Linked DNA regions of Homo sapiens. The protein of the gene in region 4 purifies or fractionates together with the protein of the main gene of each other region. This does not show direct contact. Each region holds a gene or a part of one and is shown on either strand. Other genes may lie near its edges. The genes, in order: COA7, SLX4IP, PRMT3 and PDCD2L.

Evidence for each region.
Region 1: the proteins of PDCD2L (region 4) and COA7 purify together in Homo sapiens (co-immunoprecipitation; 2 studies listed by BioGRID and IntAct, with this or other methods). This does not show direct contact.
Region 2: the proteins of PDCD2L (region 4) and SLX4IP purify together in Homo sapiens (affinity purification with mass spectrometry; 3 studies listed by BioGRID and IntAct, with this or other methods). This does not show direct contact.
Region 3: the proteins of PDCD2L (region 4) and PRMT3 purify together in Homo sapiens (affinity purification with mass spectrometry; 4 studies listed by BioGRID and IntAct, with this or other methods). This does not show direct contact.

What each region holds. Positions count from the first base shown.
Region 1 is NC_000001.11:52,683,917-52,688,347, forward strand, and holds the end of COA7 (cytochrome c oxidase assembly factor 7), read right to left. Parts: intron 4,253-4,431; coding exon 3,804-4,252; 3' UTR 533-3,803; downstream 1-532. UniProt on the Homo sapiens protein: Required for assembly of mitochondrial respiratory chain complex I and complex IV.
Region 2 is NC_000020.11:10,620,302-10,627,333, reverse strand, and holds part of SLX4IP (protein SLX4IP), read right to left. Parts: intron 6,021-7,032; coding exon 5,920-6,020; intron 4,676-5,919; coding exon 3,955-4,675; 3' UTR 1-3,954.
Region 3 is NC_000011.10:20,502,686-20,509,717, forward strand, and holds the end of PRMT3 (protein arginine N-methyltransferase 3), read left to right. Parts: intron 1-5,618; coding exon 5,619-5,728; 3' UTR 5,729-6,653; downstream 6,654-7,032. UniProt on the Homo sapiens protein: Protein-arginine N-methyltransferase that catalyzes both the monomethylation and asymmetric dimethylation of the guanidino nitrogens of arginine residues in target proteins, and therefore falls into the group of type I methyltransferases.
Region 4 is NC_000019.10:34,399,438-34,407,408, reverse strand, and holds the start of PDCD2L (programmed cell death protein 2-like), read right to left. Parts: upstream 3,011-7,971; 5' UTR 2,979-3,010; coding exon 2,871-2,978; intron 2,761-2,870; coding exon 2,594-2,760; intron 2,480-2,593; coding exon 2,419-2,479; intron 1-2,418. Other genes in the region: GPI (glucose-6-phosphate isomerase), read right to left, coding at 7,373-7,508, 7,624-7,690, 7,778-7,853. UniProt on the Homo sapiens protein: Over-expression suppresses AP1, CREB, NFAT, and NF-kB transcriptional activation, and delays cell cycle progression at S phase.

The DNA.
Region 1 (4,431 bases), on a different chromosome or scaffold from region 4:
GATACTTGTCCCCCAAATCTCACGTTGAAATTTAATCCCCAATGTTGGAGGTGGAGCTTGGTGGGAGGTGATTGGATCATGGGGAGGATTTCTCATGAATGGTTTAGGACCCTCCCCTTGGTGCTGTCCTCAGGAGATTTGTGTGTGGTATCTCCCCTTGCTCACTCTCTTGCTCCTGCTCTTGCCTTCTCACCATGTGATACACTGACTCCCCCTGTGCCTTCCACCATGACTGTAAGCTTCTGAGGCCTCACCAGAAGCCAATAGGATGCACAGCACCATGCTTCCTGAGCCAATTAAACTTTTCTTTATAAATTACCCAGTCTCAGGTATTTCTTTATAGCAATGCAAGAATGGCCTAACACAGATATGTACCCAGAAGTGGAATGGCTGGATCAAACGGCAATTCTGTTTTTCATTTTGGGGGAGCTGCACCAGTTCACAGGGTTCTAATTTCTCTGTATCCTTGACAACACTTACTTTGTTTTGGTGTTTAATAGTAGCCATCCTAATGGGATATGAGGCAATATCATTGTGGTTTTAATAGACTTTATATTTTAGAGCAATTTTAGGTTTACAGCAAAATTGAGAGGGTACAGAGATTTCCCATATAGTTGTTGTCCCCACACATGCATAGTCTCCACCATTTTCAACATCTCCCACCAAAGAGGTACATTTGCAGTAATTGATGAACCTACACTGACACATCATTATCACTCAAAGTCCACAGTTTACATTAGGGTTCACTCTTGGTGTTGTACATTTTAGGGGGTTGGACATATGTACAATGACAGGTATTTATAATTATAGTATCATACAGAGTAGTTTCGCTGCCCTAAAAATCTTCTGTGCTCCAATTATTCCTCCCTCCCCTCCCCCACCCACTGCTTTTTACTGTCTCCATAGTTTTGCCTTTTCCAGAATACATCCCAGTGTCATATAGTTGGCATCATTTAATATGAAGCCTTTTCAGACTGGCTTCATTTAGTAGCATTCATTTAAGTTCCTCTGTGACTTCTTATAGCTTGATAACTCATAATTTGTCATAGCTTGATTTAAGCACTGAATAATGACTACATGCACCACAATTTATTTACCCATTTACCTACTGAAAGACATTTTGGGTTGAGTTTTGGCAATTATAGATAAAGCTGCTATAAACATCCATGTGCTGGTTTTTGTGTGGACATGTTTTCAGTTCCTTCAGGTAAATACTAAAGAGCAAGATTGCTGGATCACATGGTAAGAGCTTACCTAGTTTTTGTAAGAAACTGCTTAACTGTCTTCCAAAGTGGCTGTGCCATCTTGCGTTCCCACCAGCAAGGAATAAGAGTTCTGGTTGCTCCAACTTTCCCAGCATTTCATGCTGTCGGTGCTTTGGATTTTGGCCATTCTAATAGTTGTATAGTGGTCTGTTGTTCTAACTTGCATTTTCCTGATGACATGTTATATGGAACATCTTTTCATATGCTTATTTGCCACCTGTCTATCTTCTTTGCTGAGATATGTTAAGGGTTTTGGCCTGTTTTTAATCAGGTTGTTTTCTTACTGTTGAATTTTAAGAGTTCATTGTGGTTTTTGATTTACATTTCCCTAATTAGTGATGTTGAACATATTTTCATGTTTTTTGACCTACAGTTTTGTGTGTGTGTGTGTGTGTGTTTTTTTGAGACAGAGTCTCACTCTGTTACCTGGCTGGAGTGCAATGGCATGGTCTTGGCTCACTGCAACCTCCACCTCCTGGGTTCAAGCGATTCTCCTGCCTCAGCCTCCTGAATAGCTGGGACAACAGGTGCCCACCACCACACCCAGATAATTTTTGTATTTTTAGTAGATACGAGGTTTCACTATGTTGGCCAGGCTGTTCTCGAAATCCTGACCTCGTGATCCGCCTGCCTCGGCCTCCCAAAGTGCTGGGATTGCAAGCGTGAGCCACTGCACCTGGCCTAGTTTTGTTTTTGTTTTTGAGACAGAGTCTTGCTGTGTTGCCCAGGCTGGAGTGCAGTGGCACAGTCTCAGTTTACTGCAACCTCTGCCTCCCAGGTTCAAGTGATTCTCCTGCCTCAGCCTCCGAAGTAGCTGGGATTACAGGTATGCATCACCACGCCCAGCTAATTTTTATATTTTTAGTAGAGAAAGGGGTTTCGTCATGTTGGCCAGGCTGATCTCGAACTCCTGACCTCAAGTGATCCACCTGCCTTGGCCTCCCAAAATGCTAGGATTACAGGCATGAGCCACCACGCCTGGCCTGACCTAGTTTAAGCACACCAAAAGCTACTTTACATTTTTAAAAAGTGAATTTGATGTCTTTTGAAATCTCCTCTGTGCACTTGGGGAAGTCCCTGTCCTCTATCAACTTGAGAGGCTGGCTGCTGTGCTCACAAGCCTTCATTTACACAGCAAGCCTTCCTTTCAGGACGGCTGCAAAACGGAAGCCTAAAACAGTAGATGGTGACAGAATGGTATTGTTACCAGCAGGGAAATGGCAAGCTCGCCCCCTGGTGACAAGCTGGGGAGACAACAGAAAAAGCAAATTTTTTTTTTTTTTTGAGACGGAGTCTCACTCTATCGCCCAGGCTGGAGGGCAGTGGCGCAATCTCAGCTCACTGCAAGCTCCGCCTCCCGGGTTCAAGCAATTCTCCTGCCTCAGCCTCCCCAGTAGCTGGGACTACAGGCGCCTGCCACCACGCCCGGCTAATTTTTTGTATTTTTTAGTAGAGATGGGGTTTCCCCGTGTTAGCCAGGATGGTCATGATCTCCTGATCTCGTGATCCACCCGCCTTGGCCACCCAAAGTGCTGGGGTTACAGGCGTGAGCCACCGTGCCCGGCCACAAATGTTCTTAAAAGGCACAACCACCACAAAGAACATACTCTCTACGGTACCTGGAATCTGGAAAGAACACTAATTAACACAAACCGTAGGTCACTCAAAATTGTTCATTCACAGGGACAGTTAAAAAGGCTCAGTTCCAGGGGACAAATGTGTCACAAAGTCCTTGCTTACAAACTCCTAGCTGAAGCTGCCTTGGGAAGAATCTGCTCCCTCAGCATGATGGGCAGTGCCAGGCGACTACACTGGAGGTGCTAATTTTTAACTGCCAATGTCTCTTCTAGACGATGGCAGGCTGATGTTTCATCTTCTTCAGCAACCCTGAAGCATAACAGCCTTTAAGCTGTATGTTGCACGTCCCTCTTGATCTCTGTGAATTTACTGAAAGATGTGACTCTAAAGGCAAAACGAAGCCCACACCAATGATTATGTAAGTCAGAGGGTGGTAGTTGTGACTATTTAACTGTTCTTAGTTCTTTAAGACCTCAATTACGTAAACCAAGATACGTTCTGATTTTCAAGCCATCCTAACCAAAATAATAATGATGAAAATGATGACAGCTGATTCCTTTAGGCCCCGGGGCTGCTAATTTTTCAAACTTCCTGCTATCCTCCCTTCCCTACTACCAATCTCCAGGGCTCTCTAGTTTGCTCCTATTTTTCACAGAGTTGCCAGAGTTTGAAAACTAAGACCCCCATAAACATGGCTATCTTCACAGAACATCCAGATGAAGGAATATTGACTGTAATAAACATTGTACAGAACACCCAGATAAAGGAATATTGACTGAAATAAACATTGTAGGCTATACTCCAGTAGCTGGGGCAATGGATCCATGTAAATGGAGCTACAAATTCAAGTCCCAAGTTTTTTTGCTCCAGCAGGTTGACCTTCAAGGGCTGCATCAGTCTTCAGAAACAGGAGCTGCCAGCCTCAAGCAGTTTGTTGCCTGGGAGGGAGGGTGGACCACATTACCCAAATGTTAAGGGTTGGACACCTTTCTGCTGTTCTTTGTGTAGCTGCTGGGCTCGATTTTTTAGCACCTCGGCCTTGGCCTCATCCTTATCAACACCATCCCCCAGCTTGTACATGCGACTGGCATTGGCACAGGCCCAGATATGACCCAGGTCACAGGCTTTCATGGAGTATTTACATGCCAGGTCCATGTCCTTGGGAAAGCCTGGGGCACCCTGCAGGAACATGGCACTGAGGTTGAAGCAACTGGAAGTATAGCCACCATCACAGGCCCTTGTGTAGTAGTCCCTGGCCTTTCCCAAGTCAGGCTGGCCATCCTCATTAACCTGTCCATCATGTGCCAGGAGGCCAACGTTGTGACATGCTGCTATTGACTTCTTTCCAGGCTTCTCACACGCCATCAAAAAGCACCTGGCGGCAGCTTTCAGGTCCTGGGTCAGACCACCTGAGAGGAAGGAAAGTAGGAAAAAATAAACCCAAGCCAGGGCACAACCTAAATGTCTCAGGCCAAAGTCAGTGAATTTTTTTTTTTTTTTTGGAGAAAGGGTCTTGCTTTGTTAACCAGGCTGGAGTGCACTGGCATGATCACGGCTCACTGCAGCCTCAACCTCCGGCTAAAGCAAT
Region 2 (7,032 bases), on a different chromosome or scaffold from region 4:
TTGCTTCAACGTGTTTCAGTTCATTAATGTTTCAATAATAAGGAATGAATTCTCTTGTCTTGACAAACCAAGCATGGAAATTTCCCCATAAGAGAAAAGAAGAAATTAAAATGATTTCCATATTCAAGTCACAGCACGCTGAAAAGAGAACTTTGAGTTCTTAGGAAAGGCATCTGTTACCTCCAAAGGAGGGCCACTCATTACAGTTTTGTGTAATATTACAGTAAGGTCTGCCAAGAAGGAATTCAAGGAAATTGGGAATGACGACACTGTGATCCCAGGCCACTCTCTTGAGCAGAGGTTTCCTTCCCTTATGTGTTCTGCCCTCGCCAAGCTCTTTCTGAAATCAGAGGCCACTGACATGCATAACAAACCATGCTAAAATCCAAACATGACACCAACAGCAAACAATTACACTGTGATCCCATTGTGGTCCCCAAGATATATCTTGAGATACTTCAGAGAGAAGCTATATTCTTCATAAATCAAAATACAGAGGGTTTTTATGATTCTTGCTTTTTATAAAATGAAATACACTTCTATAGTATTAAAATAAGTGAACAAAAGAACTACAGCACTTACTCCCCTACCCCCAAATGTTTGCTTCTTTGCATTTCACAATTCATATGCATATCTGGACGACAGTTAACCTCCAGTGGCAAAGATAAGAAAATGTGAAAGAAAAATCATACAGATTGTTCCCAGACCTTTCTTGTTTATGGACATTAAAATAACCTCAACACCAATCTATTAAGATGCCATCTGAAAGCACATGGAAGTGGCTTAGAATCTATGCCGCTGAGAAAGTTAGGAAATTCAAAGTTATAACATTAATCAAATCATATCAATGACTTCTCCAAGCATTGGAGTCACAGGGACTTGAATATAATTTGGGGTACTACGCAAGTGGTTGAAGAACTTGTTCTTTTTGACTAACAATACTGACACTGTTTCAGACTTTCAGATGCCAAATTATTAAGATCATTAAGAATGTCAAAACAGGCCGGGTGCGGTGGCTCTCACCTGTAATCCCAGCACTTTGGGAGGCCGAGGCGGGCGGATCACGAGTCAGGAGATCGAGACCACCCTGGCCAACACGGTGAAAACCCGTTTCTGCTAAAAAAAAAAAAAAAAAAAAAAAAATACAAAAAATTAGCCGGGCGTGGTGGCGAGCGTCTGTAGTCCCAGCTACTCAGGAGGCTGAGACAGGAGAATGACGTGAACCCAGGAGGCGGAGCTTGCAGTGAGCCAAGATCGCCCCACTGCACTCCAGCCTGGGCGACAGAGCGAGACTCTGTCTCAAAAAAAAAAAAAAAAAAAAAAAGAATGTCAAAACACATACCATTCCCAACAGTGAGAACTCTTCATATCCTACCTAATAAGCAACAACAACAAAAAACCCCTGGCATCCATTTACCCCTTTGTACTTCCAAATATCCAAAGAATCATGCAACCACTCAAATAACAAGAGAGCCAGGGGTGTTTCAGCCATGTGCAAGAAAAATGCTTAAAGGCAAAATTCCTCAAACACATGTCACAGTGTGGGAACTGAGAGCCATTCCCTCTGTAAATCCTGTTAAAATCCCTTTTACATGAAGGGACGTGAGGGCTGTGAGGAAAACTACATCTATCTACAACCAAAGGTGCTATTTTTTCTCTTCGATCACAGTAATTGTTATATCCCCAACTATAACAAACTCTAAAGCCAAGACTTTTCCTGACAGAGAATCATTCTAAGTACAAGTACTAGCCTTAACCACCAAGCCCAGGTTAGCTAATGAAATAAAAATTTCTCAATACCAGAGTGATACTTCAGAGAAAGATTAGAAGAAAACAGAAATAACAAAAAACCAACAGAACAAACAAATAAAAACTTCTCAATAGAAATGTTCTCTGGTGGCTCCAGCTCAAATATCTCCCCCCTAGTTCTGGAGCAGGCAGTGGCTACTGTTCTAGTACAGCCGTCTTTTTAATTCCAGACTCTTCCAGAGAGCTGCTTCTTGGTCTATCCCCTGGGTTACTTATTACTTGTGCCCTCCCTATATCTAAATCGTTCTAATTGCTTCTGTTTAAGAAGATTCAGTGACACACTGTGGTCCTGTGTTCAATAAAGAGCACACCTAAAATACTGTTTGCTCTAAGAGAGGCGCCTACAGTGGGCCATGGAAATGCACATTCTACCAGGTACTCGGTTTCCACTCTGTGCAGCCCACCCCTATTGTATAAGCAGAGTCAGCTCCACTGAAGTTAGTATTCTGTTGGGCTCCCTCTTCTCCTATAGAATCCCCTGACTGGGTTCCGCTGGGAGCAGGAAAAAAGCCAAGAGGGAAGAGGACAGGATACCAGTAGGAAGGGCTGTTTCAAGTGGGGGTGGTGAGGCTGGGATCATGGGACAGGAACAGGTTTCTAGGCAGGGTTTGGAACATTAAAGTAACAGTATCTACCACCACAGTCAGGCTTGGTGACCAAGATGGAATTTCATGACCCAAAATGGTGCCATGAAATATAGCTGCTGCTTCATGAGTCTTACTGGTCTTAACAAGTGGGGACAGGAGATACGGGAAAGGATAGAACGGGATGGAATAAACCACTAATCCATCTCAAGCATGAACCTACACTATGCCTGTTTCTGTACTCTTGTCATTGTTTTGGGCTTTTCTGGGTGATTTTTCTGCTAACTTCAACACTTTAGGGAATATACTTGGTTTTCCTTATTACTTAGGGGAGGTGCCATTTCAAAGGACCACCCCATGTTGAACAGAAAAAAAAAAAAGATGTATTGAATGAATGGACCTTGAATATTGTTTCTTTCCTCTTTTAGAGTGAAATTCGGTTATTGGAAACTTTTAGCGGGTGTCCATCCAAAATAAGTCATTGCTACAATTCACTATGTGACATTTCATCAAGCCCACTGGAGACAGTGGGTGACATTGTAAAGGGAAGGCTCCCATCTTGAAATTTGAACTGCCTGCGAAGCCTTCCAACTGGGAAACTGGAACCTGGTCACTGAGTTCCTGTTAGGTTATAGTCTGTCCCAAACCAAAATCCTGGAGGTGGGTGCAAGAGCAGGGACTGGGACATGCTTGAGCTACAGGCAACAACGAGCCTCTCTGATGTCTTCTCCTAAGGTTGGGCAGAATCGCCCATCGACTTCAACAATTATAAGGGAAAGTAACACCTTCATGGGTGCCATGGCTGCCATACTGTAGAACCCGGAAGAGAGTGACCCATACACCAAACCCAAGTGTTTTACGAGTTTGAGGGAGTCCGAGGGGATGCATGTGCACATCTGGCCCCAACTGGTGAGCTGGAGGCCATGGCAACCAGGCTGCAGGAAGCACTGGGGAGTGTTCTATTAGTCCAGTGGTTCTCAAACGCGAGCATGTTTCAGAATCACCCAAAGGCAGTTACTCAGCATGGGGCAGGGCCCAATAACCACATTTCTAGCACATTTCCAGACAACGAAGCTGGTCCCAGGACCACGCGCTAAGAACCACTAGCTTGTTCTTTCACTGCCCTCCTACTCAGGCTGAGGAGCAGGGGGATGGATTGTACCCCTGGAGCTGAAAGGCAGCACGGCAGCACTGTCTTTGCACGGTCCATTGTGTGGTCTGCACAGTGATGTGCCAAGAAGGGGCTCATGATCAGTTTCTTCATGCAGTCCTTGCACAGTCTCCTCCCTGACAAGGTGGATGGCTCTTTGTCATTACTAATTCTCTGAAGACAGTCATAAAATACAATGATAAAGAAGCAACGCTGTTAGAACAAGCATATAGCCTCCCGGTTTGAAATGCTTTGAAAACAAACCATAGCCATAACACAGATAACACACTTCCTATTTAAATTAGTCATTCTAATTAATTCCTTTAAAATCCCGGCATCTATATTCGCAGCTCTCTTGTCACAGGTTTGGCCACTATGTCCTCAACTCCAACGGTACAAACCTCTTCGGTGTTAATGGCCTCTTTCGTATTTCTTTCTTTTCTTGGTTGGGCTGTTCTGAATTGTAGATAATCTTTCAGTGTTTGTGGCTAAGCCGGTTTGCTGTGCCTGCCCTGGGTTATTTTTCATAAGATGTCTGGAGGAGAGACTTTCCAAAACATGCAACTCTTCCTTAGACGTGGTTTTTGCCAAATCTTGTTTCAAAAGTAACCCTGGATCTGACAACTCTGAAGCTGGCAAAACCCTGACAGCTTTGCTTTTTTCCACTATTATTTCTCTCGGGACTAATCGATCACTTCCAAGAGAAACTCTCCCGTGGTGGTCGAAGTCTTCCGCAGAGCTGCAGTTCCTGCGTTTCTGTTGGGTTTTGGCCACTCGTGGACTTTGTTTTGGACATGGTGATGCTGACTCACAGCTACAGACGGGGCTCCTGCTTAGAAGCCCTGTCTTTAACCGCTCCCCAGGATGAGGTTTTTGCTGGCCACTAGTGTCTTCTGGCTGGGTCTGATTAACTTTTTCCAGCTTTTGAACAGGAAGCCCCCAGTGGCTCTCAGCTGCCTTTATGGAATCCTTTGCTTGTCCCATGGATTCTGATGGGGGACTGGAGGAAGCCTGACCATCATTCCTCCTCCTTGCTATCTCTGCAATCACTGAGTCACTAGATGTTTCCACAGTGTCTCTTCTGGTCTGCGATTTGCTCGTGACACTGCTTTTTGTTTCAGTTCTTTTCACACTGAAACAAACAAAAATGATTTTATGGTTTGTAAAGCTGTCACTGCACTGTTTCCTCCAGATTCCCTCTACCACATTTCCTACACCTGAAAAAGGAGGCAGGCACTACCTGCCCTCTCGCTTCCCCAGCAAATCTGGAAACACTCCCCACCACAGGTGTATGTTTAAATGCAGACTGAATCAAGCAAAAACCTTCACATATTCCATTATACATGATACTGCTTATCAATCATTGGGTTAAAAATGGATTTATGATGGCGTTCACATTTTAACTAAGGTAAATAGGTATTCATTTCCAATGTTAAGGGTCAGTACTGCCTATATACTGATTTTTTTTTTCCAGGAGTAGACTCAGGCTCTGTGTACACAAATGTACACATACACACAATTTCTACTTGTGAGTAAAGAAAAATCTTCTGGAATTTCTCTCAGGCTATTTCAAGATGTTACCCAAATATAACCACCATTTAGCTGGTATCAGGTTTGTTGACCAAACTTGATCAACAAATGGGAGTAGGACTTAGTTAATATAATTTGAAATGTCCTGGAAGAAATTTCAGATAGTCAGCATGAAAGGCAATAAAATACAATCGTGGAAGACAAAAGAGTGTCGATATAGCTGTATATAAGCCCCTTGCTCCTTACAGCGTGCACAACAGACAATGTAACTTCACTCTGATGATAAAGTGAACTTTGAGGGGCAGGATAGAAGCTGCACAGGGAGAATTAGAGACTAAAGATGTTAACTTCAGCATATATTTACAGGTTTGTGAATGGCAAGAAATTTCCTCAACCACCAAAACATTGAAAGCTGAAATATTTATTTCGGCTAGCTTCAGTGTGAAAACAAATACATGTAATATTCATGTTCTTACTGTTGACACCAGGAGCATGAGGATTATCGTAATTATATTAAAGTCGGAACAAGGATCCTAGGAAAGGAATTTTTTTTTTTCTAGATCTGTCTGTAGTCCCTCCGAAAGTGGTATGAAACACACCACCAACAGGTGCTTTTCATCTTCAAAGAACGTGTCATTAATTACTCCTTGCAACACACCTGTGAAGCAAGGATTCTATCCCTATTGTCCAGAAAGCAAGAGAGTCAGGAGGGAGGGGAGAGTAAGTACGTGACGGAGGGGAGTTTGTGCTTCAGTTCCAGGCACTCTGTTTAATTCTGGACTTCATGTTATCTATCCATACATAGAGACAGGCAAAAATGAGAAAAAGGAAACACATTGCACCTACATTTCTTTCAGAGCATTTCTCCGGAGCTTTGCACTGGGAGGAAGTGAACTCTCTGCACACTCAGCAAAGTAATCAGACACTCCATGGAGAACTCTTTCTGTCTACTCCAAAAGATAACAAAGGTTCAACCAGAAATCTATTAGCTGAACATGAGAGAAAACAGTTACACTCTGAATGCCCCAATGAACACATTTATTTTTGTAAAGACTGAATGAAACTGCTCAGTGGTAAGCTATTTTAACCTTTTTTACCTAGGACTTTATGGTTAATTGTAACTTCTTTTGGACTCCCAGTCCACATTTCATACATTAACATGCGTCATAAACATACAAAACTGTAAGGCAAATAATGTTGATTCCAAACCATCTGGGAACTCTTGGCCAATATCTGGTATCTGTGAGGCTCAGGCTGTGACAAAAGCCCCAGAATCCTACTGTGTGGGGCAACGTGCCTGTGAGCTCTGTTCTTCTAGCAAGACCTGGTGACACAGTGGTCTACACCCTTATCATCCTAAGAATTCCCCATATTTTCTCTATCTGCAAAAACAAAGAATATTTTGTGGCCGGGTGCAGTGGCTCACGCCTGTAATCCCAGCACTTTGGGAGGCCGAGGCAGCCAGATCACGAGGTCAGGAGATCGAGACCATCCTGGCTAACACGGTGAAACCCCGTCTCTACTAAAAATACAAAAAAAACTAGCGGGACGTGGTGGCAGATGCCTGTAGTCCCAGCTACTTGGGAGGTTGAGGCAGGAGAATGGCGTGAACCCGGGAGGCGGAGCTTGCAGTGAGCCGAGATGGCACCACTGCACTCCAGCCTGGGCAACAGAGCGAGACTCTGTCTCAAAAAAAAAAAGAATATTTTATCACACCCAAGACCATAGCAACAGTCAAATCTTTTAATATTGGTATTTTGAAAACTGTAGTTTGTGATTCTTGGCTACCAAAAAATTCGGGACTTTTTTCCTTATACTAACCACCACTCTGGTTTTATATAATTCATAGATTATCTGCCTATCTAGCCTTTTGTGTTCCCATGGAAGCATCATAAGGAAGTAATTATAAAATGTAAAAGCCTACCTACCTTGCCAACATTAACCCATTTCATGCTTTTG
Region 3 (7,032 bases), on a different chromosome or scaffold from region 4:
ATTTTGACTTGCACTAAGGATTGAATAGGACTTCTATAAACAAGACAGCTTACATATTTTTAACACTCAAAAGGCAATGTAAATGAAAGAGCAGCAACCATCAGAACAAATGTACAAAAATGAAATATTTACTAGCAATACCTCATATGCTTCAATGAGAAAAGAAGTAAGGTAAATGCACCAGATTTTTTAGATGGTAGTTAAATAAATAGTACTTATCTCCTCTGATTTGAAATACAAATCAGAGCAATCACGTTTTGGTTGTTGTTTTTCATTTACTCTTTTGTTGATGAAGATGGCAGGAATGTAACACTGGAATATATTTCATACCTTTTATGAAGGAATTATACTTCTGATAATCCATCCTAAAGAATCAATTCAAAATTCAGACTTAAAAAATACTTGTTACACAAAGACACTGCTTTAATTTGCTTTTCTTTCTTTAAACTATCTTGCTTTATAGAATTTTTTTTCATTTTTTATAGTCACATCTGTCAACCTTTTGCTTTTGGTGTCTGGCTTTGGTTTCATCCTTTAAAAGATTATATTACTACTTTTGTACAATGTATTGAATCCTTTCCTCAGTGACTTAAAATGCTCCACTTACTATGTACTGAGTCTTCATAATTGATCTTATTTCTCTCATTTGTCTGTGTTTATTCCTAGGCACCACATTTTTAAACAAATAATTTACATATAATCAAAATTCACACATTTTGATTGTACAGCTCATTGAGTTTTGAAAATTACATATACCACTGTGGAAATATAGATTATTTCCATCACTCCAAAAAGTTTCTTCTGCAATTCCCTGTATGGTCAGTCCCCAACCGTGATTCCCAGACCAAGACAGTCACTGATATGCTTTGTCATTATATGTTAGTATTACCTTTTTAGAATTTTTATCAATGGAATTATACAGCATGTACTCTAGCTTTCTTGGCATTTTTTTTTTTTGAGATTCTTCTATCATTAGGTTGTTCCTTTTTATTGCCAAGTAATATTCCTTTGGCTATGCCACAGTTTACTTAGGTATTCACCTGCTGCTAGACTTTTGTATTGCTTTCAGTTAGGGGCCATTAAGAATAAAGTTGCTATGAATATTCATGTAAAAGTCTTGGTGCAGACAGATGTTTTCATTTCTCTTGGGTAAGTACCTAGAAGTGGAATTACTGGGTCTTATGGTAAGTGTATATTTAACTTTATAAGAAACTGGCAAATTTTTTAAAAATGACTATGCTATCTAACATCCCTAGGGCTAACACCATTGTGAATTCAGTTGTTCCACATCATTTTTAACACTTATAAAAAAGATGCAGTATTTTAAGCCGTTTTGAGTATGTAGTTATAGCTGTGCTTGTAGTTTTCATTTGCCTGATGTGATGTTGGGCATTGTTTCATATGTGTATTGGCCATTTTTATATCTTCTTGTGAGATTTCTGCTCAGATATTTTGCTTGATTTCAAATTGGGTGGTCATCTAATTGAGTTAAATTTAAAAGTTAATAATAGTTCATCTTTTCCCAAATGTATATTCACTTGCTCCATCATCATTTCTTAAAAAGACTATCCTTTTCCGATTTAATCGCCTTGGCTCCCTTGTCAAAAATTAATTGACCATATGCATATAGATCTACTTCTGAGCTCTCATTTTCCCCCAGGGATCTGTATGTCTGTCCTTGTGCCTTTAAGACAGTCTTTATAAGATTGAAAAAGAACAAAATGGCAAGATTTACACAAACAGTTGTTTTGGCTATTCTAGGTCCTTTATATTGCCATATAAATTTTAAAATCAGCTCATTAATTTCTGGCCTAAGAAAGCCTGTTAGGATTTTGACTGGGATTTTGTTAAATCAATAGATTAGGGAAAATTGACATCTTAACAACATTGAGTCTTTCACTCACGAGAGAGTGGGTCTCTCCATTTATGTGGACCATCTTTAAAGTTGTTTTGTAGTTTATGTAAGTCAGACATATATTGTTACATTTATCTCAAGTATTGTATGTGTGTGTGTGTGTGTGTGAGAGAGAGAGAGAGAGAGAGAGAGAGAGAGAGAGAGAGCGAGAGCGACTGAGACTCGGTCTGTCGCCCAGGCTGGAGTGCAGTGGCATGATCTCTGCTTACTGCAACTGCCACCTCCTGGGTTCAGGCCATCCTTGTGCCTCAGCCTCCCAAGTAACTGAGACTACAGGTGTGCACCACATGCCTGGCTAATTTTTGTGTTTTTAGTAGAGACAGAGTTTTGCCAGGTTGGCCAGGCTGGTCTCGAATTCCTTGTCTCAAGTGATCCGCCCACCTTGGCCTCCCAAGGTGCTGGTATTACAGGCATGAGCCACCACACCCAGCCTTTATGCTTTTTTGAAGCTGTTGTTTGTAGTATTATATAAATTCTTCATTGCTAGTACGTAGAAATAGAATTTTTATACCTTGATCCTAAATCATAAGACCTTGCTTAAACTTCAATAAATAGTTCTAGTAGCCTTCTTTGCATATAGCTTCAGGATTTTCTATGTATAAAACCAGGTAGTATGCAAATGAAAACTTTAATTCCCCCTCCCCCAGTCTGTATCCTTTTTCCCTCCACACTTTAATGTCCTGACTAGGACATCTAATAGAATACTTACTTTATGTTGGGTCTCTGGAGGTCATTTTGTTATTTTTGAATCTCAAGTGTCCATTATCTGTCTTTTCATATGTGAACTACTTTATACCAGCAACTAAATTAAGTAATTTGTATAAGACATACTGCTTGTAAGTAAAAAGGAACTAACAAGCCACTGTGTTGTAAAAATCAAGTTTGTTGATTCAGTGTTGGCAATTCAATAACAGTAAGTTAAACCCAATAACCAAGTTGGCAATTACTATTCTCTGTCATGTATTTACAAAAACATTGTCAGTTTATCATAATGTGGCTGTTCGTTCCCAGTTTTGGTGTCAATAAATAACTTAAATAGAAGTTTTTAAATGTTGATTTAAAAAGAAGCAAATAAAATAGCCAAAATAGAAAAGTCAAAATAGGAAAATCTTAAATGTGTTCAATATACTAATGATCTTTTATTTCTTCCTTAGGTTAATGCCTTAGATAAGAAAACGTGTATCATTGTTCATTAGTTATTATAGAATAATAGTTACATCAACTTACATATCAATTGTGTTTATAAACAAGTAAATATTTTTACCAAAAAAAAAAAACAAAACCCACGGGGCGGTAAAATTTAGGTCTATTTCTTATTCATTATAGTATATTTAAAGCTATAATCATCATTTTTTTAGATAGAGATAGGGAAGCACCAGAGTATAGTTGAGGAACTTGGGTTCTGGAATCAAACTGCCTTGCTGAAAATCCTAGTTCTTTCACTAGCTGGCAGATGACCTTGGGCAAATTACTTACCTTTTCTGAACTTCATCTGTGAGTAAGGAAAATGCGCTTACCTCATAGCAATATTTTGTGACCATTAAGTGAGATAAATCATGTAAAGACCTTAGAGTAGAGCCTAGCACAAAGTAAGTGTTGAATAAATATAAGCATAAATTATCTAATGATTAACCTGAACTCCATAAAGTTTGTAGAACTATCTGACTGGTAATCTTTATTATGTCCACTATTGGTGAACATGTCATATGAGATAGTTTTATATCATTTTCTTAATATAGAGGAATAGGTCAGATATAAAAGCTAAAGCCAAATATACACATTAACATATATACGTACACAAAAATTGTTATATTTTGTTGAATGGATTGCACCTTGGGCCACATTATTTCTTCTATTATTTAACTCCTTAATTATGTGTTAAACTGTGAGTCTCACCTTTTTTGCAAAGATGTAGAGAAGGTATCAGTAATGGAATCTTTATATTCTGAAAATAAATATAACAGGTGGTTATGTTTTACTTGTGTTATTTCACTACCATCTTGAAAAGCATTCAGATAATTTTCCTTGAATATGGGGAATTTGTATTTTTTTAAATACGATATTCATTCAGTACTTCAATAGTTTTATGTAGATTTCCTTGGTCATTATATGGAGCCTCATTGTGTCCATGCAGATGCTAAAGCTATTCCTGACACTGTTTGGTGTTATCTTAATATTATTTAAGCAAAGAATGGTGATCAACTACAACTTAGCAATTTGTTACTTTTTAAACAGCTCTTTAAAATAAATGAAAAATTAAATGAGAAGTATTTATAATTAGAAAAGTACATAGATAAAAATTTGGAACCTACAGAATTTAGGAAATCAGCCTTTGCACAGGTAAGTAATTTTTGTGTGTTCACTGTTTCACATGGGTACATTGTTTCCCTTTTACAGCACCAGTGCATCAATGGCCAATGGCTTTGTCATGTGCCTCTACATTTTCCCAGCTATAATTTTCAGTTCCTCAAAATGCCATTCCTGAAGGTTCTGTGTATGTGTTTTCCTTAAATACCATTACATGTACATCCCTTAAGCCTGGTTCTCCATGACTTCAGCCCTGGCATTGGGTAATTCATTAATTCTTGTGAAACCTTGCCTTTAACTGCCTTCCAACCATCCCCAGTGCTCACCTCCAGCACACTTTAGACACATGCCTATTGTGTAATTGTTAGTATAGCTTTTTTCTTCACCCTGATCACAAACTCTTTGAGGGCAGGGACCATATCTTTTTTCTAGATGCCCAGAACCCACCATAGGGCCTCATATTTAGAAGTTCAGTAAAATGCTTCCATTGACCCTTTATGACCACAATAGTTTTACTCACTTTCACAAGGATTTGACACTGTGGTATGTAGTTAGTTCTCGCTTCATTCAAAAATTAATGAAACAGGGCTGGGCGCAGTGGCTTACGCCTGTAATCCCAGCACTTTGGGAGGCTGAGGTAGGTGAGCGCATCACCTGAGGTCAGGAGTTCTAGACCAGCCTGGCCAAAATGGCAAAACCTTGTCTCTACTAAAAATACAAAATTAGCAGGTCATGGTGGCGCATGCCTGTAATCCCAGCTACTTGGGAGGCTGAGGCAGGAGAAATCACTTGAACACGGGAGGCAGAGGTTGCAGTCAACTGGGATTGTACCACTGCACTCTAGCCTGGGCAACAGAGAGAGACTGTCTTAAAAAAAAAATTAATGAAACATAATGCTGCTCTAAAAAATGAATATTGGCTGGGCACAATGGCTCATTCCTGTATTCCCAGCACTTTGGGAGGCTGAGGCGGGTGGATCACCTGAGGTCAGGAGTTCGAGACCAGCCTGGCCAACATGGTGAAACCCCATCTCTACTAAAAATAAAAAATTAGCTGGGCATGGTGGCATGCGCCTGTAGTCCCAGCTATTCGGGAAGCTGAGGCAGGAAAATCTCTTGAACCCAGGAGGCGGAGGTTGCAGTGAGCCAAGCTTGCACCAGTGCACTCCAGCCTGGGAGAATGCAGTGAGCTGAGATCACACCACCGCACTCCAGCCTGGGTGACAGAGTGAGACTCCATCTTAAAAAAAAAAAAAAAAAAAAAGAATATTAACCTTAAATAAAGTTTAAAAAGTGGGAAAACATCACAATAAAAAGAAGTGCTAGTTATACATTGTTTACTTTTCTGCTACACTGTATTCCTTGAATTCTTAACAATTTTTGCCTTTGTTTTACAGGTGAAGCCTTGAAAGGAAAGGTCACAGTTCACAAGAATAAGAAAGATCCACGTTCTCTCACCGTGACCCTCACGTTGAATAATTCAACTCAAACTTATGGTCTCCAGTGAAACAGCCATAAAAGCACACTACCTTGTAGTTTTTAATGTGGGGGTAGAGTGGGTCAGCAGGAGGGAGCTGGTTTTATGTGAGCAGATGGATGGATGATGGACCCTTTCCTAATGAGCCTCCTCAATAAGAGAGAAGTTCTCATTGTGGGAATCTGACATAGTTCAGCTGAGGAAGAGAATCAGCTGATCCTCATGGTCTGCCACGTAATCATTTTCTTAGACGTTTGCTCCACCAGATTTAACCAAATGTAACTCCCACATTGAGTTTATCTATATTGAAAATCATTTACATTGGCCTATATTTGGAAGAGAGATAGTCTTTTGTTTTTAATAAGTTTCTTACTATAAATTTTAAACAAATTGGTTAGTTATTTGGATATTTTATTAAACTAGTAACACAGGTACTACACATTTTATTATGGACTCCTCTGAGGAGGAGTTTTTAATTGTATTTGCTAGAAAATCAGGATGTAATAAAGATTTGTATAAAAAAACTAAAATATGGAAAAGAGCTTCAGCCTTCATATACAAATCATATATGCAGACAGCCTAGTTGATTATCTAGCATACTTAGGGTTCTCATTTTGTAGTTTCTTCCCTCTTTGTGACTATTCCTTAGCCTTATAGATTTCTAGTACTGCCCAGGAAATCTAATTTCAATACATTTATCCTAGGTTTCATGAAAGTTTTTAAAGATTGGGATAAATATGTACTTATTTACTAACGTATTATCTTTTTCAAACCAGATTTATGTGCAAAGGTTAAACATGTAACTGTTACTAAGCAGTCTATAAAGTTGTCATTTACAATTACTGATTCAATTTGAAATGTAGAATAAAATTTTAATAAAATGTATCAACTTATAAAATATTTTAAAAATATTGATATTATAAAAGTTTTCAATAAAATATATCAAACAACATTATAAAATATTTCAACAGGGTATGGTAGCTCATACCTATAATCCCAGCATTTGGGAGGCCAAGGCAGGAAGATCACTTAAGCCCAGGAGTTTGAGAGCAGCCTAGGCAACACAGGTCTGTACAAAAAATTCTTTTAAAAAAATTAGCCAGGCATAGTGGTGCATGCCTGTAGTCCTAACTACTTGGGAAGCTGTGGTGAGCAGATTGCTTGAGTCCAGGAGTTGGAAACTACAGTAAGTCAAGATCGTGCCACTGCACTCCAGCCTGGGTAACAGAGAAAGACTCTGTCTCTAGAAAAGTTAATTAATTAAAAGTAAAAAACAGGGCCAGGCATGGTGGTTCATGCTTATAATCACAACACTTTGGGAGGCCAAGGCAGGA
Region 4 (7,971 bases):
CCAGCACCTCAGGAAGCCAAGGCGGGTGGATCACGAGGTAAAGAGATCGACACCATCCTGGCTACACGGTGAAACCCCATCTCTACTAAAAATACAAAAATTAGCTGGGCATGGTGGTGTGTGCCTGTAGTCCCAGGTACTCAGGAGGCTGAGGCAGGAGAATTGCTCGAACCTGGGAGGCGGAGGCTGCAGTGAGCCAAGATTGTGCTACTGCACTCCGGCCTGGCAACAAAGCGAAACTCCATCTCAAAGAAAAAAAAAAATCTGGAGTGAGCCGGGCATGGTGGCTCACGCCTGTAATCCCAGCACTTTGGGAGGCCGAGGCGGGTGGGTTGCCTGAGGTCAGGAGTTCAAGACCAGCCTGGCCAACATGGTGAAACCCTTTCTCTACTAAAAATATAAAAATTAGCTGGGCGTGGTGGCGAGTGCCTGTAATCCCAGCTACTAGGGAGGCTGAGGCAGGCAGGATAAGCGCTTGCATCCGGGAGGTGGAGGTTGCAGTGAGCTGAGATTGTGCCATTGCACTCCAGCATGGGCAACAAGAGCGAAACTCGGTCTCAAAAAAAAAAAAAAAAAAAAAAAGGAAGAAAGAAACCTGGAGCGGGAAGAATAAGGAGATGACGGTCAAAGAATACAAAACCTCAGTTATTCAGGAGGAATGTGGGTTTTTTTTAAGTTCTACTGCACAGCATGAATATAGTTAATAATAGAGTATTGTGGCTGGGCACAGGGGCTCAAGCCTGTAATCCCAGCACTTTGGGAGGCCGAGGTGGGTGGATGACAAGGTCACGAGATCAATACCATCCTGGCTAACATGGTGAAACCCTGTCTCTACTAAAAATTTAAAAAAATGAAAAAATTAGCTGGCCGTGGTGGCGGGCGCCTGTGGTCCCAGCTACTCTGGAGGCTGAGGCAGAATGGTGTGAACCCAGGAGGTGGAGCTTGCAGTGAGCAGAGACGGCGCCACTGCACTCCAGCCTGGGCAACAGAGCAAGACTCCGTCTCAAAAAAAAAAAAAAATAAGAGTATTGTGTATCTCCAAATTGCTAGAGGAAATTTCAAATGTTCTCACAAGATGTTAAGTATTTGAGGTGATGAATGCATTAACTAGCTTCATTTAATTATTCCACATGATATTCATGAATCATAGCCATCACTTTATACCTCATAAATTTATACATTATTATAAACTGTCAATTTACAGTTAAAAAAAAAAGTTGAAGAAATCCAGGAGGAAGTCTCCATCTCCCTTTTGTTTTTTTGGCAGGGGACAGGGTCTGGCTTTGTGGCCCAGGCCGGAGTGCAGTGGCACAAGTGTAGGTCACTGCAGCCTCAACCTCCTAGACTCAAGCAATCCTCCTACCTCAGCCTCCTGAGTAGCTGGCACTACAGTTGCGTGGCCATCATGCCTGGCTAATTTGTTTACTTTTTATAGAGACGATGTTTTGCTATGTTGCCCAGACTGCTCTCCCAACGTTTTTTTTTTCTTTTGTTTTGTTTTGTTTTGTTTTTACGGAGTCTGTCACCCACGCTGGAGTGCAGTGGCATGATCTCAGCTCACTGCAATCTCTGTCTCCCGGGTTCAAGCGATTCTCCTGCCTCAACCTCCCTTGTAGCTGGGATTACAGGTGTCTGCCACCATGCCCGGCTAATTTTTTGTTTTTGTTTTTAATAGAGACGGGGTTTCGCCATGTTGGCCAGGCTGGTCTCGAACTTCTGACCTCAGGAGATCCGCCCGCCTCGGCCTCCCAAAGTGCTGGGATTACAGGCGTAAGCCACCGCGCCCAGCCTGGTCTCCAACTTCTGAGCTCAAGCAATCCTCCCACTTCAGCCTCTCAAAAAACGGTGGGATCACAGGCGTGAGCCACCATGCTGGGCCTCCATCTCCTTTTAACAAAGGAGTTAGAAAATAAAAATAAAGTAAAATAGAAGAAAAAAAAAACTCTCACAAAACCTTAAGAAAGGCCGGGCGCGGTGGCTCATGCCTGTAATCCCAGCACTTTGGGAGGCCGAGGCGGGTGGATCACCTGAGGTCGGCAGTTCGAGACCAGCCTGACCACCATGGCGAAACCCCGTCTCTATTAAAAATACAAAATTAGCCGGGCGTGGTGGCATATGCCTGTAATCCCAGCTACTAGGGAGGCTGAGGCAGGAGAATCGCTTGAACCTGGGAGGCGGAGGTTGCGGTGAGCCGAGATCGCGCCATTGCACTCCAGCCTGGGCGACAGAGCGAAACTCCGTCTCAAAAAAAAAAAAAAAAAAAAACTTTACGAAAATAGCATTTTATGGTTCTTCAGAAAAGCAAAAAACACTCCAGTGTACTTCAAAGAACACGGCTTTAAAGTCTGCCCCAAACTATTCTCTGGAAAATATCCTCAAATGACAGAAAAACAATAACATGCCAATCACAACCTTTACCTGAGCGTCCTGCGCCTCTCTCTCTGGCACCTGCAGGCACTGGGAGCGGAACACCTTCCAGCTTCGGGGTGAAGACAAAGGGCCGTGAGGGCTGCACCCCGACTCCAGCCCGCCGGCCCGCCCCAGCCCGCTGGAAAGGACACCCCTGGAGCAGCTCTGGGACTTCCCCGCCTACCTGCGCGCACCGCCGGTGCTACAGCCGGGGCAGGCGCACGCGAACACGTGCAGCAGACGGTGAAACGGGGAGCCTTCCAGCGGGCAATACACCTGCACGACCAGAGCGAGCGGCTGCCCGCAGCGCTGACACACGGGCCTGGGCGCAGCCACGGTGGGCAGAGCATCCTGAGGGGACAGAGGAGGCGCTCAGACCCCGACTCCCCCCAGGACCTCGCCCACTCCCTCCGCACCCTTCAGCAGCACCCATCGACCCCAGCTCCGGCACCCGCCCTCACCGGAATGCCGCCCAGCTTGCTAGCAGTCCAGGCACCCGGCCCTGTGGGGCTGCCGTGCACCGGCGCATCTCGAAGGCCCAGCAGCACCGGCTTCAGAACGGCCGCCATGGCCGCCGGGCGACCAGGTGAAAACGCAAACTACGGCGGCCTCTCTGCGCACGCGCAACGCTACGCTAAAATGATAACCCCGCTCCCTTACTAGGATCCGATGCGGAGGCGTGGCTTTAAGGCGCGTGCGCTCAGGTCCCAGAGCCACAGAGGCGCCGCTGGCGTCAGGGGCTCGAAATCCCGGAGTCCCAGGCATTATGTGCCCCTTAATGCGCTGTGATAGGAAGTACACACCATCTACTAGGAAGTAGTTTTGCCAAAAAGCTAACTTTCTTTTTTCCTTTTTTTCCTGAGACGAGGACTTGCTATATTGCCCACACTGGTCTTGAACTCCTGGGGTTCAAGCGATCCTCCCGCCTCCGCCTCCCAAAGTGTTGCGATTACAGGTGTGAGCCACCAGAAAAAAGCCTTCCCGGAAAATAAAAATTTTAGGTGGGATAATGGTATTATCAGTCATTAACAAGAACAATAAAGTTTTTTAAAAAGTTAAAGTTTTTAATTTTTAGAGAAACACACCAAAATGCTTATAGATGAAATACCTCCGATTTGCTACTACATAATTAAGGTGGTGGGGTGTAAATACAGTAAGATTGACCATGAGTTGATAATTGTTGAAATTTGGTGCCAGGCACATGGAGATTTATTCTATTTGGGTTTTATATGTTTGAGATTTTTCAGTTTTTATTTTTGTTTTGTTTTGTTTTGTTTTTGAGACAGAGTCTTGCTGGGTCGCCCAGGCTGAAGTGCAGTGGCGCCATCTCACTGCATCTCAGCCTCCCAGGTTCAAGTGATTCTCCTGCCTCAGCCCCACCCAGTAGCTGGGGTTACAGACGCCCACCACCACGCCCGGCGCCCGGCTTTTTTTTTTTTTTTTTTTTTAGACGGAGTTTCGCTCTTGTCGCCCAGGCTGGAGTGCACTGGCGTGATCCCAGCTCACTGCAACCTCTGCCTCCCAGGTTCAAGCGATTCTTCTGCCTTAGCCTCCCGAGTAGCTGAGATTACAGGCATGTGCCACCATGCCTGGCTAATTTTGTATTTTTAATAGAGATGGGGTTTCTCCATGTTGGTCAGGCTGGTCTCGAACTCCCAACCTCAGGTGATCCGCCCACCTTGGCCTCCCAAAGTGCTGGGATTACAGGCGTGAGCCACCATGCCCGGCCTTTTTTGTATTTTTAGTAGAGACGGGGTTTCACCATGTTGGCCAGGCTGGTTTCGAGCTCCTGAAATCAAGTGATCTGCCCACCTCGGCCTCCCAAAGTGTTAGTATTACAGGTGTGAGCCACCGCGCCCAGCCACACAATACAGTTTTTTCAATTCCTGCAGCACAACATGGGTGAATTTCAAAAGCATCATGGGAAGAAGCCAGACACAAAAGGCGCCATTCTGGTAAACGCAGAACTTCGGAGGGAAAAAAATCAGTTCAATGGTAGTCAGGAGTTGGGATGAGGGAGTAGGACTGGACCACAAGTGTCAGGAACTTTTGAGGGTGAGGAAAATGCTGTATATCTCATCTGTAATGGTTCTAAGACTGTATATACACTTGTGAAAACTCATAACTGTATACCAAAGAAAGGTGAATCTTACTATATGTAAATCACACCCCAATAAACCTGACTTTTTAAAAATGCAGGCTGCAAAAACATTATTTTAGGATTCATAACGTGGTATGCAAAAGAAATGAATGTTTTCAAGGATTTACACCTCAAAGGAGGAAGCACCAGCCTTTGTGAGGTTTGGCTCTAGCCCAGCAAGGATCTGGAGATGAAACCCATTTACTCCTTTTTTTACCACACTTCATCCTGATAGCTTTAAAAGGCCCTGTGATGCTGGGCACAGTGGCTTGCGCCTGTAATCCCAACACTTTCGGAGGCCAAGGCAGGAGGATCTCTTAAGCCCAGGAGTTGAAGATAAGCCTGGGCAACACAGTAGTATTACCAGGGGAGGATCTTGACTACAAGTCGTCCAGGTTCTTGGAATATTGAACAAAGAGGTGGACAAAACACACAAAGCAACAAAAGAAGGAACAAAAGCACAGATTTATTGAAGCAAAAGTACATTCCAGAAAGCGGGATGAGGCTCAAGCAAGTGCCCTGTGTAGAAAATCTGGGGTTTAAGTACCCTTTAGAGGTTTCCTATTTGGTTACACCCTATGTAAATAAAGACTTGGCCTGCCACCAGTCAGAGGCTGAAGTGAATGCTCCTTTGTCTCCAGACCCTATTCTCTGGCCTCAGTGGGATCCTATCACTACAAAAATTTATTTTTTATTTTTCTTATTTTTTTTTTTTTACAACAGTACACTGATCTACAAAAATTTTAAAATGAGCCGGGCGCGGTGACTCACGCCTGTAATCCCAGCACTTTGGGAGGCCAAAGCAGGCGGATCATGAGGTCAGGAGATCAAGACCATCCTGGCTAACACGGTGAAACCCCGTCTCTACTAAAAATACAAAAAATTAGCCGGGTGTGGTGGCGGGCACCTGTAGTCCCAGCTACTCGGGAGGCTGAGGCAGGAGAATGGCGTGAAGCCGGGAGGTGGAGCTTGCAGTGAGCCGAGATCACACCACTGCACTCCAGCCTGGGCAACAAAGCAAGACTCTCAAAAAAGAAAAAAATTTTTTTTTAAATGAGCTGGGTGTACTGGCATGCATCTGCGGACCCAGCTACTTGGAAGGCTGAGGTGAGAAGATCACCTTAGCCTGGGAATTTGAGGCTTCAGTCAGCTATGATTGTATCACTGCAGTCCAGCCTGGGCAACAAAGACCCTGTCTCTAAGAAAAAAAAATTTTGAATAGGCTGGGTGTGGCGGCTCACGCCTGTAATCCCAGCACTGTGGGAGGCTGAGGTGGGAGATCTCTTGAGCCCTGGAATTCAAGACCAGTCTAGTCTGGGAAACACAGCAAGACCCGCCTTGCTGGGCGCGGTGGCTCACGCCTGTAATCCCAGCACTTTGGGAGGCTGAGGCGGGCGGATCACGAGGTCAGGAGATCGAGACCATCCTGACTAACACAGTGAGACACTGTCTCTGCTAAAAAAATATATAAAAAATTAGCCGGGCATGGTGGCAGGTGCCTGTACTCCCAGCTACACAGGAGTCTGAGGCAGGAGAATGGCGTGAACCTGGGAGGCGGAGCTTGCAATGAGCTGAGACCGTGCTACTGCACTCCAGCTTGGGCGACAGAGCGAGACTCCGTCTCAAAAAAAAAAAAGACCCGTCTCTCTACAAAAAATGAAAAAACTAGCAGGGCATAGTGGTACAACCTGTAGTCTCAACTACTTGGGAGGCTGAGGCAAGAGGATTACTGGCTGCAGTGAGCTGTGATCATGCCACTGCACTCCAGTCTGGGCAATGGAACAAGACCCTGTCTCAAAAAAAAAAAAAAGTTGTCAAAAAAAAAAAAAAAATGGGCCGGGCGTGGTGGCTCATACCTGTAATCCCAGCACTGTGGGAGGCTGAGGCGGGCAGATCACCTGAGGTCAGGAGTTCAAGACCAGCCTGCCCAACATGGTAAAACCCCTTCACTACTAAAAATACAAAAATTAGCTGGGTATGGTGGTGTGCGCCGTGTAATCCCAGCTACTCGGGAGGCTGAGGCAGGAGAATAGCTTGAACCCGGGAGGCGGAGGTTGCAGTGAGCCGAGATTGCACCACTGCACTCCAGTCTGGGTGACAGAGCGAGACTCAAAAAAAAAAAATTCCAGTTTTCAATATCTGCCTTTTAAAGCAAAAGAACTACCTGAGCGTCTTGCCAGGAGATGGCAGTCATCCTCGGTCTTGTCCAGGAATTCACCCGAAACAAACATAATCTCAATGCAGTTTTTAGAACCATCGAGTGAACAGAGTATCCAATTTCTGCAGTCACAGAGGTGAGGAGTGGAAAACAGTCTTGGGATTTGGTGACACAGGCCAAGTTGCCGTCCTGACTGATTGTGCCCCCACCCCACTATTGTCTTCTCAGGGCACCTTGCTCCACTCTAGACCCGCTCACCACTTAGTGTTAAGTGTCCGCAGAGGCACAGCCTGCGTCCTGCTGAGCGCTCCTGCCCTCTGCTACATAAAGCACCATCACAGGAAAAAAAAAATCAGAGGCTGAGCCTACAACCTCCTCCGTGGCATCTTTATTTTTCTACATGGGATGTGAACAACGTGAACATGGGTCAGAAAAGTCAGCTGCACAAAAACACTTCAGCCAATTCTAACACAGAGGGAGCATAGACATGGAGGGGCTGGGGGTTAGGCTGGGGGAGACCAGCCTTCCCTGCTAAGGGCTCGTGGTCCAAGCCCACAACCAGAGGGTGCTCTGGGTGGTGTCCAGGAACATGCAGTGCCGGCTCCGGGGAGGAGGGACGAGAAGAGAAAGGGGAGTCACAGAGGAGGCTGCAGATGAGCACGAGTTTATTGGACTCTGGCCTCGCGCTGCTGCTTGATGAAGTTGATGAGCCCATTGGTAGAAGCGTCGTGAGAGGTCACTTGAGCACTGCCATCAAGCTCAGGCTCTATTTTCTTAGCCAGCTGCTTTCCCAGCTCCACTCTGCCAAGAAGGGAAGGGAAGGGAAGAGTGGTATGAGGAAGGCTCTAACGTTGCTACTGAAATCCCTGAGCCGACACAAAGGTATTCCCGGCCCTCCCCTAAGTGAGCAACTCACCCCCACTGGTCAAAGCTGTTGATGTCCCAGATGATGCCCTGAACGAAGATCTTGTGCTCATACATGGCTGCAGAAGTGACAGACAGGGCACATCAGGGCTCCACAAGCCCATTCCAACCTACCCCAAGCCAGGACCTTTCCCCTACTCACTCACCGACCAAGGCTCCAAGCATGAATGGTGTGAGCTTGGTGAACACAATAGAGTTGGTTGGGCGATTTCCTTCAAAGACCTGCAGAAAACACCAAGGAATGTCTCCAAGAGAGTCCTGATCCCTAAACCCCTTGAAGGGAAGCACACCCTGCCCCAGAGGCTGAGACGTGCAGGTCTGTGAGGACAGGCCCTCCCAT